Linked DNA regions of Homo sapiens. The protein of the gene in region 3 purifies or fractionates together with the protein of the main gene of each other region. This does not show direct contact. Each region holds a gene or a part of one and is shown on either strand. Other genes may lie near its edges.

Region 1 (3,500 bases), on a different chromosome or scaffold from region 3:
AAAAAACACAAAAAAAGGGCAATACATAATGGCAAAGGGTTCAATTCAACAAGACTTAACTATCCTAAATATATATGCACCCAACACAGGAGGACCCAGATTCATAAAGCGAGTTCTTAGAGACCTAAAAAGAGACACAGACTCACCCACATTAATAGTTGAAGACTTCAACACTCCATTGACAGTATTAGACAGATCACTGAGGCAGAAAATTAACAAAGATATTCAGGACCCAAACTAAACAGTGAACCAAATGGATCTGATAGATCTCTACAGAACTTTCTACCCCCAAACAACAGAATATACATTCTTCTCCTTGCCACATGGCACATACTCTAAAATTGATCACATAATTGAACATTAAACTATCCTCAGCAAATGCAAAAGAACCAAAACCGTATTAAACACACTCTCAAACCACAGTGCAATAAAAACAGAAGACTAAGAAACTTGCTCAAAAGAATGCAATTACACGGAAATTAAATGACATACTCCTGAATGACTTTTAGATAAATCATGAAATAAAGGCAGAAATCAAGAAGTTCTTTGAAACTAATGAAAACAAAGATACAACATACCAGAATATCTGGGACACAGCTAAGGCAGTGTTAAGAGGGAAATTCATAGCGCTAAATGCCCACATCAAAAAGTCAGAAAGATCTCAAATTAACAACCTAACATCACAACGGAAAGAATTAGAGAAGCAAGAACAAATCAACTGCAAAGATAGCAGGAGACAAAACATAACCAAAATCAGAGCTGAAATGAAGGAGACAGAGACAAGAAAATCCATTCAAAAGATAAACAAATCCAAGAATGGATTTTAAAAAAAAATTTAACAAGATAGGTAAGCTACTAGCTAGGCTAATAGAGAGAAAACCCCAAAAACCACAATTAGAAATGATGAAGGGTGTCATCATTACCACTGACCCCACAGAAGTAAAAATAACCAACAGAAACTACTACAGAAACCTCTATGCACACAAACTAGAAAACCTAGAAGAGATGGATAAATTCCTGGACACATACACCCTCCTAAGACTGAACCAGAAAGAAATTGATTCCTTGAATAGACCAATAATGAGCTCCAAAATTGAATCAGTAATAAATTAGGCTCCCAACTAAAAAAAGGCCAGGACCTGATGGATTCACAGCTGAATTCTACCAGATGTACAAACAGCTGGTATCATTCCTACAGAAACAATTCCAAAAAACTGAGGAGGAAGGACTCCTCCCAAACTCATTCTATGAGGCCAGCATCATCCTGATACTAAAACCTGGCAGAGCCACAACAACAAAAAAACTTCAGTTCAACATCCTTGATTAACAGTGATGCAAAAATTACAAAATATTTGCAAACTGAATCCAGCAGCACATCAAAAAGCTAATCCACCTCAATCAAGTATTCTTCAACCCCAGGTAGCAAGGTTGGTACAACATAAGCAAATTAATAAATGTGATTCTTCACATAAACAGAACTAAAGACAAAAACTGCATGATTACCTGAATAGATACAGAAAAAGCTTTCAATAAAATTCAACACCCCTTTATGTTAAAAAAAACTCTCAATAAACTAGGTATTCCCTTTGAAAATTGGCACAAGACAAGGATGCCCTTTCTCACCACTTCTATTCAACACAGTATTGGAAGTCCTAGCTGAAGCAATTAGGCAAGAGAAAGAAATAAAGCACATTCAAATAAAAAGAGAGGAAGCCAAACTGTCCCTGTTTGCAATTGACATGATTCTATATCTAGAAAACCCCATAGTTTCGGCCCAAAGCTCCTTTAGCTGGTAAACATCTTCAGCAAAGTTTCAGGATACAAATCAATGTACAAAAATCACTAGCATTCCTATACTCCAACAACAGCCAAACCTAGAGTCAAATCAGAAAGGCAATCCTATTCACAACTGCCGCAAAAAGAATAAAATACCTAGGAATACAGCCAACCAGGGAGGTGAAAGAGTTCTATGACGAGAATTACAAAACTCAAATAAAGAAATCAGAGAAGACACAAACAAGTGGAAAAACATCCCATGCTCATGGATAGGAAGAATCAGTATCATTTAAATGGTCATATTGCTCAAAGTAATTTACAGATTCAATGCTATTCCTATCAAATTAACAACGACATTCTTCACAGAACTAGACAAAACTATTTTAAAATTCATATGAAATGAAAAAGAGCCTGAATAGCCAAGACAATCCTAAGCAAAAAAAACAAAACTGGAGGCATCACACTACCTTACTTCAAACAATACTACAGGGCTACATAACCAAAACAGCATGGTACTGGTACAAAAACAGGCACATAGACCAATGGAACAGAACAGAGAGCCCAGAAATAAGGCTGCACACCTATAACCATCTGACTTTTGACAAAGCTGATAAAAACAAGCAATAAGGAAAGGACTCCCTATTCAATAAGTGGTGCTGGAATAACTGGCTAGCCATATGCAGAAGATTGAAACTGGACCCCTTCTTTACACCATACACAAAAATCAACTAAAGATGGAGTAAATATTTAAACATAAAACCCAAAACTATAAAAAACCTGGAGGACAACACAGGCAATAGCAACCTGGATGTAGGAATGGGCCAAGATTTCATTACAAAGACACCAAAAGCAATTGAAACAAAAGCAAAAATTGACAACTGAGATTTAAACTTAAGAGCTTCTGCACAGCATAAAGAAACTATCGACAGAGTAAAAAGACAACCTACAGAATGGGAGAAAATTTTTGAAAACTCTGCATGTGACAAAGGTCTAATATCCAGGATCCATAAGGAACTTCAATAAATATACAAGAGAAAAACAAACAACCCCATTAAAAAGTGGGCAAATGACATAAACAGACACTTTTCAAAAGAAGACATCCATGCAGCCAATAAGCACATGAAAAAAAGCTCCATATCACTGATTATTAGAGTAATGCAAATCAAAACCACAATGAGATACCATCTCTATCCAGTCAGAATGACTATTACTAAAAGGTCAAAAAATAACAGATGATGCCAAGGTTATGGAGAAAAGGGAACACCTATACACTGTTGGTGGGAGTGAAAATTAGTTCAACCATTATGGAAGACAGTATGGTGATTCCTCAAAGAGCTAAAAGCAGAACTACTATTTAACCTAGCAATACCATTACTGAGTATATACTCAGAGGAGTGTAAATCATTCTACCGTAAAGACACATGCACACAGATGTTCAATGCAGCACTATTCACAATAGCAAAGACATGGAATCAACCTGAATGCCCATCAATTAGCAATTTGATAAAGAAAATATGGTACATATACATCATGGGATACTATGCAGCCATAAAATGTGGTACATATACACCATGGAATACTATGCAGCCATAAAAAGAATGAGATCATGTCTTTTGCAGGAACATGGATGGAGCTGGAGGCTGTTATCCTTAGCAAACTAAACCAAGAATAGAAAACCAAATACCATATGTTTTCACTTACAAGTGAGAGCTAAATTATGAGAA
Region 2 (3,500 bases), on a different chromosome or scaffold from region 3:
TTTGGGGTTTTATTTAGGAGACAAACCATGTGGGAGACAATGCGCAACACTCACAGAAGACTGGGGCTTCCCTCTGCAACTCAACTCTGCCACTAGCTGGTGATGTGATTTCCAGAATGATCTTTGTGTCTTGGTTGCCTCTACTGTAAAATGAATGAGCTACCTCTCAGATCTCATTCAGATGCAATACCTTACGACTCGGAGCATACACTTAGTTTTAAAATCTGAGATTTAAAGTTATCATGGCATAATTTGCAGAGTTTGTGTAAAGGGCCTTTTAACAGATTGAGAGGTTGGGGGTGGGGATAAGATATAGTTCAATCACTGAACACCAAGCAAGGAACTAGGCTAAGAATACTGAGGGAAAAGTCAAGACTTATTTCCTCAAAGAGGGAATCTCTTCCCTAAACTACCAAACAGGTATCTTGTTTATTATTTTCGTCTACTTGGCGGGGAGGTTGTTTTGCCACTCGTTTCACAGTATCTCTGGAGCCCACAGTGGCTGTTCCTATTTTGACTAATCAAACCCTTCTTTGACCAACATACACAAGATTATAAAGAAAGAAATTTAAAAGACCACAGGTGCTTGACTGGGTTAGGAGGTATAACCAGGTTCCAGTGCAATTCTGATCTACCCTGTGTATTCAGCCCTCATCCCTCACACGGATCTGCAGGCATTCCTCCCCTCTGACCTTCGGACACATGCTTAAAATTCTCTTCAATGAAAAATTTGTACCACCACAGCTTATGAAATAATCTGATTCAAATATGTAAGTTCTTCAATGAATTCCAACCAATTCAGATCTCATACAAATGCATTTTGTGTAATACTAAGATAAATTTTTCAAGATGGTTTAGTTCATTAGCTCACCTAAGAAGTACAGATAGATGCATTTGTTTGAAAATATTTTTTAAAACCTCTTTTCACACTTTTAACTAGTTTCTAAGTCCCATATACATAAGAAGCTCCTTTATATGAATCCCAGTTGCCTTGATAAGAGGAAGACAGAATATTCTAGGAGAAACTATCAACAGCTTACAGAAAATGAAGCTGAACATAATTAACTACCCATTACTGTATATATGTATTTTTTTGCTTTTGTATATTAACAGTCAGCACCTACTCCAGTACTTAAACTGTTGAAAACTAACCTACTTGTTAAGGAGAGAAAAACCTTCACAAACACTCCATGTCCTCCCTGCTCTGGGGAAGGGCCTCTGGGTGGAGCAATCCCACACTAGCCTATGTTCAGTAGGGAATGTGTCACGGCACAGTGGCACAGGCAAGCAACCTAAGGATGTTGAAGCTTCTTGGGTCAGGTCTCCAAATCATGGCTTTTATTATTTTGTAAATATTATTTTCCACCCCAGAACTACCCATAAAAATAAACTGGAAAGTTAAGTGTCAAAATAAAAGTGTTTTGTTTTAACCTGCCAAGGCAGATTATTCTCACATCTGATCTTTACCAAAAGGGTATAAACTGTCAATAGTTAATATAAATTATAGGCTATATGCCTAAGGCTAGCATAAAGTATAATAAATGTGAATTTTAACTACTAGCCATCAATATGAAAATGTTCTTTAAATTCATGATTACACAAATAGGTCTGGAATAAAATACTAAAGTCTTGTTTTAGAACTGAGAGAAGAAAACTGTGACCCCACAGGTGCAGGGTCCTAAAGCCTTACATGACAAATCTAAGGCTGCCAGTCTGCACATACCCCTAACCCCCACTTAGGTTGGTGAGGATTCCAGCCTGAGAAGAAAGGAGTCCCCTCTGACAACCTGACTGTCTTTAGCCCCAGCCCCTATTACTCAGGTCTCCCCTTAATTTCAGAAAAACGAAAAAAAAAGTCATCCTCCAAATTGGATTAAGGTTCTAATCCTAAAGGACAGCACAGGCTAATTGAGAAAATGGGAGAGGTTGAGGGGGGGGCGGAGCGGGGGAGAAGGGAAGCTAAAAATGATTTCTGATTAAAAAAAAAAGTAAATGGACTATTTTTCTAAAACTTCCATGCTGCTATTTTAACTTTTGTGCTTCATTATTCTAACACTGCTTTTTAAAGCTAAGGACAACCTGAGTACAATTTTAAGATCAAACTCATGAAAATAAATATACACTATGTATGTATCATAAATCTCAGAGAAATCCCAGGGTTAATTTACAAAATTTTAACAGAGGTGAAGGGAGGAAGATCTTAATTCTATTTTGAAGTTTTACATCAAAGATTCATCATCCATCAAATCAGTAGTGGAAAGCATTTAACATTTTTTGTGAAGCATTCTGTACAATGACCTATTTGAAATTAACAGAGTATCTCCCCTAAGACACGAAGTTGTTAAAAATCTACTGCAGTACTAGTAACATAAATGTGCCATAGATATAAAAAATAGTATTGACTGACTTTGAACCAAGTACAAAATAACAGGTTGACTCAAATTACAATCCAGTCTTCCAACATGTTAGACTTGAGTGCACTTTCTAAATTTTAACTATAAGTGTTGGTGCATTCAGGTGTGATAGAGAACCTAAGTATAAAGAGAATTAGAAAATACAGGAACAGGTCAGGCATGGTGGCTCATACCTGTAATCCCAGCACTTTGAGAGGCCAGGCAGGTCGATCACTTGAGGTCAAGTTCGTGACCAGCCTGGCCAACATGGTGAAACCCCGTCTCTACTAAAAATACAAAAATTAGCTGGGTGTGGTGGCACGTGCCTGTAATCCCAGCTACTTGGGAGGCTGAGGCAGGAGAATTGCTTGAACCCAGGAGGCAGAGGTTGGAGTGAGCTGAGATCACCCCACTGCACTCCAGCCTGGGCAACAGAGCCAGACTCTGTCTCCAAAAAGAAAGAAAAGAAAACACAATGGTAAAGAAAAAAACTAAGGCAAAGATCTACTGGTTGATAACAAAATGTCCACAGTGGTGCCTGAAACTGAATCCAAATACGTAAAGTTAAAGTCCAGTGCCCTATTTACAATGGGCAACCACTCTTGCCTCTCTAAAGCCAAATATTTACAGCACAGTTTTTAGAACAGCATCATAATTTCTTTTTTTTTTCTTTTGGTTTACAAAGGAATATATCTGCCTGAACTAATCTGATGGAAAATCATAATCCATTTCTTCCCATTAGCCTTTGACTAAACACTAAAGCTAATTATGCTGGCTCTTTTGGGTTCTCACAGCAACAAGGAATTTTAAAGAACACATTTAGTTCCACTGCTTTATGCAAGACTGAGCGGTTTCAAAACATCTAGGTGCTAAGATGTTAGACAGAGACTACGTAAATCTCGTTTACACGGTTAATTAAGACCTTGTGATTTAGGCATACAGACAACATGGATCTACTGGATGGATATGCACACTGTTAATATGTTGTCCTGAGTCTGAGACTGCTACTGCCCCACTGGTTCTGCTCTGAATGCACTTGTAATCACTCTTGGTCAGTACCAACAGCTTAACATCTATGTATCTTTCGTATTAAAATCTTTTCCTCGG
Region 3 (4,069 bases):
CAGGGGATCGGGGCTGCCGTGAGTTGTGATGATGCCACTGCACTCTGGCCTGGGTGACAGAATGAGACCCTGTCTCAAAAAAAAAAAAAAAGAAAGAAAAAGAAAGCTAATGAACTTAGAAATAGTTTCTAAGGCCAGAGTGGTGGCTCGCACCTGTAATCCCAGCACTTTGAGAGGCGGAGGCAGGTGGATCACAAGGTCAGGCGTTTGAGACCAGCCTGGCCAACATAGTGAACCCCGTCTCTACTAAAAATACAAAAATTAGCTGTGCGTGGTGGTGGGCGCCTGTAATCCCAGCCACTCAGGAGGCTGAGGCAAGAGAATTGCTTGAACCTGGGAAGTGGAGGTTGCAGTGAGCCGAGATTGCGCTACTGCACTCCAGCCCAGGCGACAGAGCAAGACTCTGTCTCAAAAAAAAAGAAAGAAAGAAAGAAAGAAAGAAAAGCAATAAAGTTTCTAGGCTGGCGCAGTGGCTCATGCCTGTAATTCCAGCACTTTGGGAAGCCGAGGCAGGCAGATCACCTGAGGTCAGGAGTTAGAGACCAGCTTGACCAACATGGCGAAACCCCATTTCTACTAAAAATACAAAAATTAGCTGGGCATGGTGGCACGTGCCTGTAGTCCCAGCTACTTGGGAGGCTGAGACTGAGGCATGAGAATTGCTTGAGCCCAGGAGACAGAGGTTGCAGTGATCACGCCACCGCACTCCAGCCTGGGTGACAGAGCAAGACTCCATCTCAAAAAAAAAAAAAAGAAAAAAGATATGAACAAGGATTTCAAGCAATAACTCTGGATCACAGTCTCTGGTTCTGGGCCCTGAGATTGCAGAGGCACGATGGAGAGTCCAGTGATGTCCAAGGCCACATGGAGTTGAGATGAAGCCTTCGACCCGCCACATTCACAGCAGTTATGGGGCCGTCCCTGCACACCGGCGTGGGCATATGCTGCAGAAATTTCCAGAGATACCGCATTCTGCACATCTCATGCCGGCTTCGCATTTCCTCCCCAGAAATTCCCTGTGGCCGCTGGCCTTGAACTCCTGGAAGTCACCCGCTCCTTGGTGGTATGGTCGTGTCTGTCAACCCTGGGCTTCAAAATTTTGTCTAGTCAAATCAACAGGCTCCTTCCAAGAAGAATGGCAAAGATGCATTCATGTGCCTTCTTGTGAAGTATGTGTGTGTCTGAGTCAGGCATCTGCCCACCTGGAGGGTAACCTCAGCATTTCCATTCAGCCCTTTCACTCAGCCGTGGCCAGTAGAACTTTTGAGTGTTTTCTGGAGAAAAGCTGAGTAAATGGTTTTGCCATGGGCGGGACGCTGACTGCTCTTTCTCCTCACCCTGGCCCTTTATATACCTCCAGGCAGCCATGGCGAACACATCTGGCTCCAGAAGCCCCCACTGAAGCTGGCCTTGCTCTCTCTCGCCATGGCCTCTCACTCAGGTATCACTGGTCCTGGTGCTTCCGGAGTCTTGGGCATCATCTTATCTCACCAGGAAGATTCTGGAAGCACTACCCCCAGGGTTGGCTCAGCAGGGCTGCAGGGATGGAGCCAGGGTGGGCAGGGGTGTGTGATGTATGCGCTCACGGCATCGTTCTCTCTCCAGGCCCCTCGACGTCTGTGCTCTTTCTGTTCTGCTGCCTGGGAGGCTGGCTGGCCTCCCACACGTTGCCCGTCCGTTTACTACGACCAAGTGATGATGTACAGAAAATAGTCGAGGAATTACAGTCCCTCTCGAAGATGCTTTTGAAAGATGTGAGTGTCCTAGAGATTTCTTTTCTAAACGATTTCTTAAAAATGCCTTCCATTGCCCTCCAAAGAGGCTCCTCTCTCCGGACCTGAAACCAGGGCTGTAGCTATGCCAGGAAGGGATGGGGGAAACTAGACAGGCAAAGATGGCTTTTTTTTTTTTTTTGAGACAGAGTCTTACTCTGTCACCCAGGCTGGAGTGCAGTGGTGCAATCTTGGCTCACTGCAACCTCTGCTTCCTGGGTTCAAGCGATTCTCCTGCCTCAGCCTCCCGAGTAGCTGGGACTACAGGCATGCGCCACCACGCCCAGCTAATTTTCATATTTTTAGTAGAGACAGAGTTTCTCCACGTTGGCCAGGCTGGTCTTGAACTCCTGACCTCAAGTGATCCGCCTGCCTTGGCCTCCCAAAGTGCTGGGATTACAGGCGTGAGCCACTGTGCCCAGCCAAGATAGCTTTGATCAAACAAACAAATGCCCAAACTTGGAAACAATTCATAAAATTGGCATTACTCTTCTCATCTGCCTTGGTATTTAGACCTTAGCCTTGGCTTTTATAAAAGGCAGAGGTTGTTACCAACCCAAGATGACTGGGCAGTTCAGGTTGATGAGGTGCTGCTGGCAATTTGGTCTGACTCTAGTTAGTACTTAGAAAGAGGAAGGGAGGGAGTGGTCCGGACTCCTTGGTTTGTTGGGGAAAACTCTCGCCTGCATCTCGGAGGCCTTTCCGGACAAGCCTAACACTCTCCTTTATAAGTGGAGCGTGCGTGGCTTTAACACAGAGTCCCAAAGGGCGGGGAGCTGCCATGGAAGGCCAGATGTGCTGCAATTCCCACCACCCTGAGCACGTGAGAGTGGGTTCTGGAAGGCTGGGAGGCCTCAGCTGGATGGATCAGTGGTTCTGAGCACAGGCTTCAGGACTGCAGCCACCTAAGCTCTAGTTTCATCTGGAAATGGGGTTGGTGATGGCACAGCCTCATAGGGTTGTGACATTGATCAGATAAATATATCAACGAGGCGGGTTACGGAGGAAGCATGCAAACATTCACTGTTAAGACTTGCAGCTGTCATTGCAAACCCAACACTGACCATTTCTCCTCATTCCACAGGTGGAGGAAGAGAAGGGCGTGCTCGTGTCCCAGAATTACACGCTGCCGTGTCTCAGCCCTGACGCCCAGCCGCCAAACAACATCCACAGCCCAGCCATCCGGGCATATCTCAAGACAATCAGACAGCTAGACAACAAATCTGTTATTGATGAGATCATAGAGCACCTCGACAAACTCATATTTCAAGATGCACCAGAAACAAACATTTCTGTGCCAACAGACACCCATGAATGTAAACGCTTCATCCTGACTATTTCTCAACAGTTTTCAGAGTGCATGGACCTCGCACTAAAATCATTGACCTCTGGAGCCCAACAGGCCACCACTTAAGGCCATCTCTTCCTTTCGGATTGGCAGGAACTTAAGGAGCCTTAAAAAGATGACCGACAGCTAAGTGTGGGAACTCTGCCGTGATTCCTTAAGTACATTTTTCCAATGAATAATCTCAGGGACCCCTCATATGGGCTAGTCCCGGGAGGGCTGAGATGTGAATTTGTGAATTACCTTGAAAAACATTAGGTTATTGTTATTAGTCTTGGTATTTATGGAATGCTTTTCTTCTGCAGGCTTAAGTCTTACTTATTATACCCTCGTGAGGGTGGGAGGTGGCAGCTATGTTAATTTATTGATATTTATTGTACTAAGAGTTGTCAATGCTCCCTGGGGGAGCCCTCGGAATCTATTTAATAAATTATATTGAATTTTTCTCATAATCTGTGACACATTTTGTGAGGGGCTTGACATTGGCAAATGGGACTCCAAGCTGGGTAGAGTTGTGGCAGAGGGCAGATGGACATGCTCTAGAAAGAGGTATCGCTTCTACCACTGTCATTTCTTCCCACTGGACGGGCTCAATAAAAAATAATGACCCTGAGCCAGGCACTGTGGCTCACACCTGCAATCCCAGCACTTTGGGAGATAAAGGCAGGAGGATCACTTGAGCCCAGGAGTTCCAGACCAGCCTGGGCAACATAGTGAGACCCCATCTCTATTTAAAAAAAAGAAAGAGAAAAGAAATAATGACCCTGGTGGTACACGGTGGCTAGTTTCGTCTGGAAATGGCGATGGTGATGGCCACAGCCTCATAGGGTTGTAACACAGATCAGATATCCCAGCACTTTGGGAAGCTAAGGCTGGAGGACTGCTTGGGGCCAGAGTTTCGGACCAGCCTGGGCAACATAGCAAGATCCCATCTCTAAAAAAACCAACCCAA
Region 4 (3,130 bases), on a different chromosome or scaffold from region 3:
GAAAATCTGCAAATGAAGATAAACCCTAGCTAAACAAATAAACTGCCATTAACATTTAAAACTTTGGGACACATTTCAAGAAAATTCTCAAATTCTCAGAACTTCAGTTTCTGCCATCATAGACATTAGAGTACTGAAAAGTTTGCAATAAAACAGTAACATTTCTGTACACTGATGAAGGTTCCTAACTACATAAAACAACCACAGTCTAACATTGGTAAACTTGGGGAAAAATTATAGATACCTCTAATTCTTCATTATTATCTTCTCCTCTTTCATATCCTCCAAGTACCTGCATTTCTGCAATATTTCTTCGACCTACATTTGCTTGTTCTCTTTGTCTGCTTCCTGATCCTCTTGATGACATTGAGCTTGAGGAACTGGGATCTCTGGGATTATTTGATGTTGGAAAAGTAGGTCTACAATAAGGTAGAATATCCTCTGTGTAATGAAATATAATAAATGCAGGTGAGTACCATCATACACTTTCACTGTATATTGTATCACTCCTGTCTATCTGTAATTCTGAATAAGGAAGCATCAGTGATTTAAGGTATAAATGAGGACACTCTATAAGCATAATGAATAATGTAGCATAGTGTGTTGAAAATGAAAAGTATAAGCCTTGTTGTTTTCCTGTTAGTAGTCAGGGATTTGGATTGATTCCACTCATAAGCTCTTGTCCATCTCAAACTCACTACAGACCAATATCATTAAAAGAGGTAAACCAAACCTGGAGTCAGACTTGGCTTCCAATTCTGTCATTCACTATATGATCTCAGATTATTTTAGGCTTTAGTTTCTACTTTTCCAAAAAAAGTGATGATAACATCTATACCTAGAGGGTTTCTGTCAGGCCTCCGTTCACATGGACACGTGAGACAGTTTCTTAGTGTTGATATGAAAACAGATGAGATAATAAAATATCTACATAACTTATAAAATGTTATTATAAGGAATTGGTAAAAATCAAGCCCAGTCTCCTAGAAATATCAAACAGAACCAAGCCTGGTTTCACTCCACAGACACCAAAATATCAACCTCCACGTCAATGTCCTATTTACATTGTGGAACTCTGAATCTTAGAAGCCTGCTATTGTTGCTAACTTCAATAAGCAAGCCACTCCAATTAATTTCTGTCTCCTGAATTTCTACCTCCTTAACTGCTTGAAAATTTGGTGCTACTTCTACTGATGCATCAGCCAGCTGCTCACTTCTCTCCAAAGTCTGCCAACTCTGCCTTTTAGATGACAAACACATAAATACCTAACTCTTTGGCATGCTTTTCCCCACCTCCCCCAAATGCTTCCTCTACTATTCACATTGCCTGAGTGAAGCCTGATTTCCCTTGAAGTTCCCGCTGACGTTCTCTGTAGTGGAAGGGTAAGGCAGAAGGCTTCCCTCTAGCTCACCATCACCAGTTCTAAATTATTGCTCCTCTATCCTTGCACAAAAACATCTCCACCTCTGAGGCCCAAGCCATCGTTTTCTGAAGCCAGTATAGTCTTCCTTGATAGCGTCTTGTTCTTTCCATTCTACTCATCACAACTTTCACCCCTAACCCACAGTTCTGACACATAGGAGTTTCACAGTCCATGAGGATGACTGTTTCTGCAGCTTCTCTTCATAACACTTGATACCATGTGACCATCATCCTCTGTCTCTGTTTCATCAACAGCTTTCTCTCTACTGACTTTAGTTTTCTCAAACTACAATATGATAAAATCTCTCTCTTACTAAAAACTTTCCCCTTAAGACTGTGCTCTCCATGAAATCAACACCTTCTTTCTTTCCTCACCACTCAGCCAAGCTTCTTGAAAAGCAATTTGGATTCAATATTGATAGTCACAATTCCCATTCATTCTGCATCCCACTGAAATCTATTTATGCCTACATCACTACTATGAAACTGAGAAAATTGATAATGCTAACCGTGTTTCCAGCCTTGTGTCCCTGGACTTCTTACTGCTCTTAATCAATGCAAATATTATTCTCTCAGCTGCTAGCTTTCCTTCCTCCCTGGTCAATCTTCTGTGAGCTCTTTTTATGAAGCACCACAGATATGCTGATGCTCTACAGGTTTCTACTTTCAGCCTAATGTATATAATTCATATATATGTATAATATAATTATATATACGTTATACATATATGTATGTATATCATTCATGTGTGTGAGTGTGTGTGTGTGTGTGTGTGTATATATATAGATGAATGATATAGTTTGGATATTTGTCACTGCCCAAATCGCATGTTGAATTGTAATCCCCACTGTTGGAGGTGGGGCCAGGTGGGAGATGTCTGGATCATGGAGGCAGATACCTCATGGATCGCTTGGGCCATCCCCTTGATGATAGGTGAGCTCTTGCTCTGAGTTCACACAAGATCTGGTGGTTTAAAAGTATGTGGCACCTCCATCCCACTCTCTCTCTCTCTTGCTCCTGCTTTCACCATGTGATGTGCCTACTCTGCCTTCACCTTCCGCCATGATTCTAAGCTTCCTGAGGTCTCCTCAGAAGCCAAGCGGATGTCAACACCATGTTTCCTATAAAGGCTGCAGAACACTTAGCCAATTAAATCTCTTTCTTTTATAAATTACCCAGTCTCAGGTTTTTCTTTATAGAAATGCAAGAATGGCTTAATACTACATATATATTATTTCTTCTACTGACCCTAGGTGATTTTACCCAGTCTCACAGATTATAACCCTTTCTAAAATATAACTGTCATAAGGGGAGGTATTTTGTATGCTTTGCGTGCTGATATACTTTCATCTTGACCTGTAACACGTCATTAATACATTGTTTTACATTATTTTCATCATGCTGAATCATTAATTTATATTTTTAATTCCTAAACTATGCCCCAAACCTTAGGCTCCTATAGGCACCCCAGCTGAACCCCTACTCTTACATGTTCCTCAAACTCAACCTGTTGAACATTGACCTCACAATGCTCACTCCCTTAGATATCTTCCTTTGCTACATTCTCTAAGACAGTGAATGACATCACTAATCATTAAGATACGCAAGACAGAATATTGAAATTATTATAGATTCTTCCCTTTCAACAACCTTTCCATACATCTTAAGTGTATCCTTTCCACATGGTCCAACATACAACAAGTAAGT

Evidence for each region. The genes of interacting proteins can lie anywhere in the genome.
Region 1: the proteins of IL31 (region 3) and DNAJC1 purify together in Homo sapiens (affinity purification with mass spectrometry; one large-scale study listed by BioGRID and IntAct). This does not show direct contact.
Region 2: the proteins of IL31 (region 3) and MAN1A1 purify together in Homo sapiens (affinity purification with mass spectrometry; one large-scale study listed by BioGRID and IntAct). This does not show direct contact.
Region 4: the proteins of IL31 (region 3) and ROBO1 purify together in Homo sapiens (affinity purification with mass spectrometry; one large-scale study listed by BioGRID and IntAct). This does not show direct contact.

The regions. Positions count from the first base shown.
Region 1 is NC_000010.11:21,885,231-21,888,730, forward strand, and holds part of DNAJC1 (dnaJ homolog subfamily C member 1 precursor), read right to left. Parts: intron 1-3,500. UniProt on the Homo sapiens protein: May modulate protein synthesis.
Region 2 is NC_000006.12:119,343,262-119,346,761, forward strand, and holds part of MAN1A1 (mannosyl-oligosaccharide 1,2-alpha-mannosidase IA), read right to left. Parts: intron 1-3,500. UniProt on the Homo sapiens protein: Involved in the maturation of Asn-linked oligosaccharides. Progressively trim alpha-1,2-linked mannose residues from Man(9)GlcNAc(2) to produce Man(5)GlcNAc(2).
Region 3 is NC_000012.12:122,171,529-122,175,597, reverse strand, and holds IL31 (interleukin-31 precursor), read left to right. Parts: upstream 1-1,376; 5' UTR 1,377-1,425; coding exon 1,426-1,441; intron 1,442-1,605; coding exon 1,606-1,754; intron 1,755-2,856; coding exon 2,857-3,186; 3' UTR 3,187-3,569; downstream 3,570-4,069. UniProt on the Homo sapiens protein: Activates STAT3 and possibly STAT1 and STAT5 through the IL31 heterodimeric receptor composed of IL31RA and OSMR. May function in skin immunity. Enhances myeloid progenitor cell survival in vitro.
Region 4 is NC_000003.12:78,599,869-78,602,998, forward strand, and holds part of ROBO1 (roundabout homolog 1 isoform a precursor), read right to left. Parts: intron 442-3,130; coding exon 245-441; intron 1-244. UniProt on the Homo sapiens protein: Receptor for SLIT1 and SLIT2 that mediates cellular responses to molecular guidance cues in cellular migration, including axonal navigation at the ventral midline of the neural tube and projection of axons to different regions during neuronal development.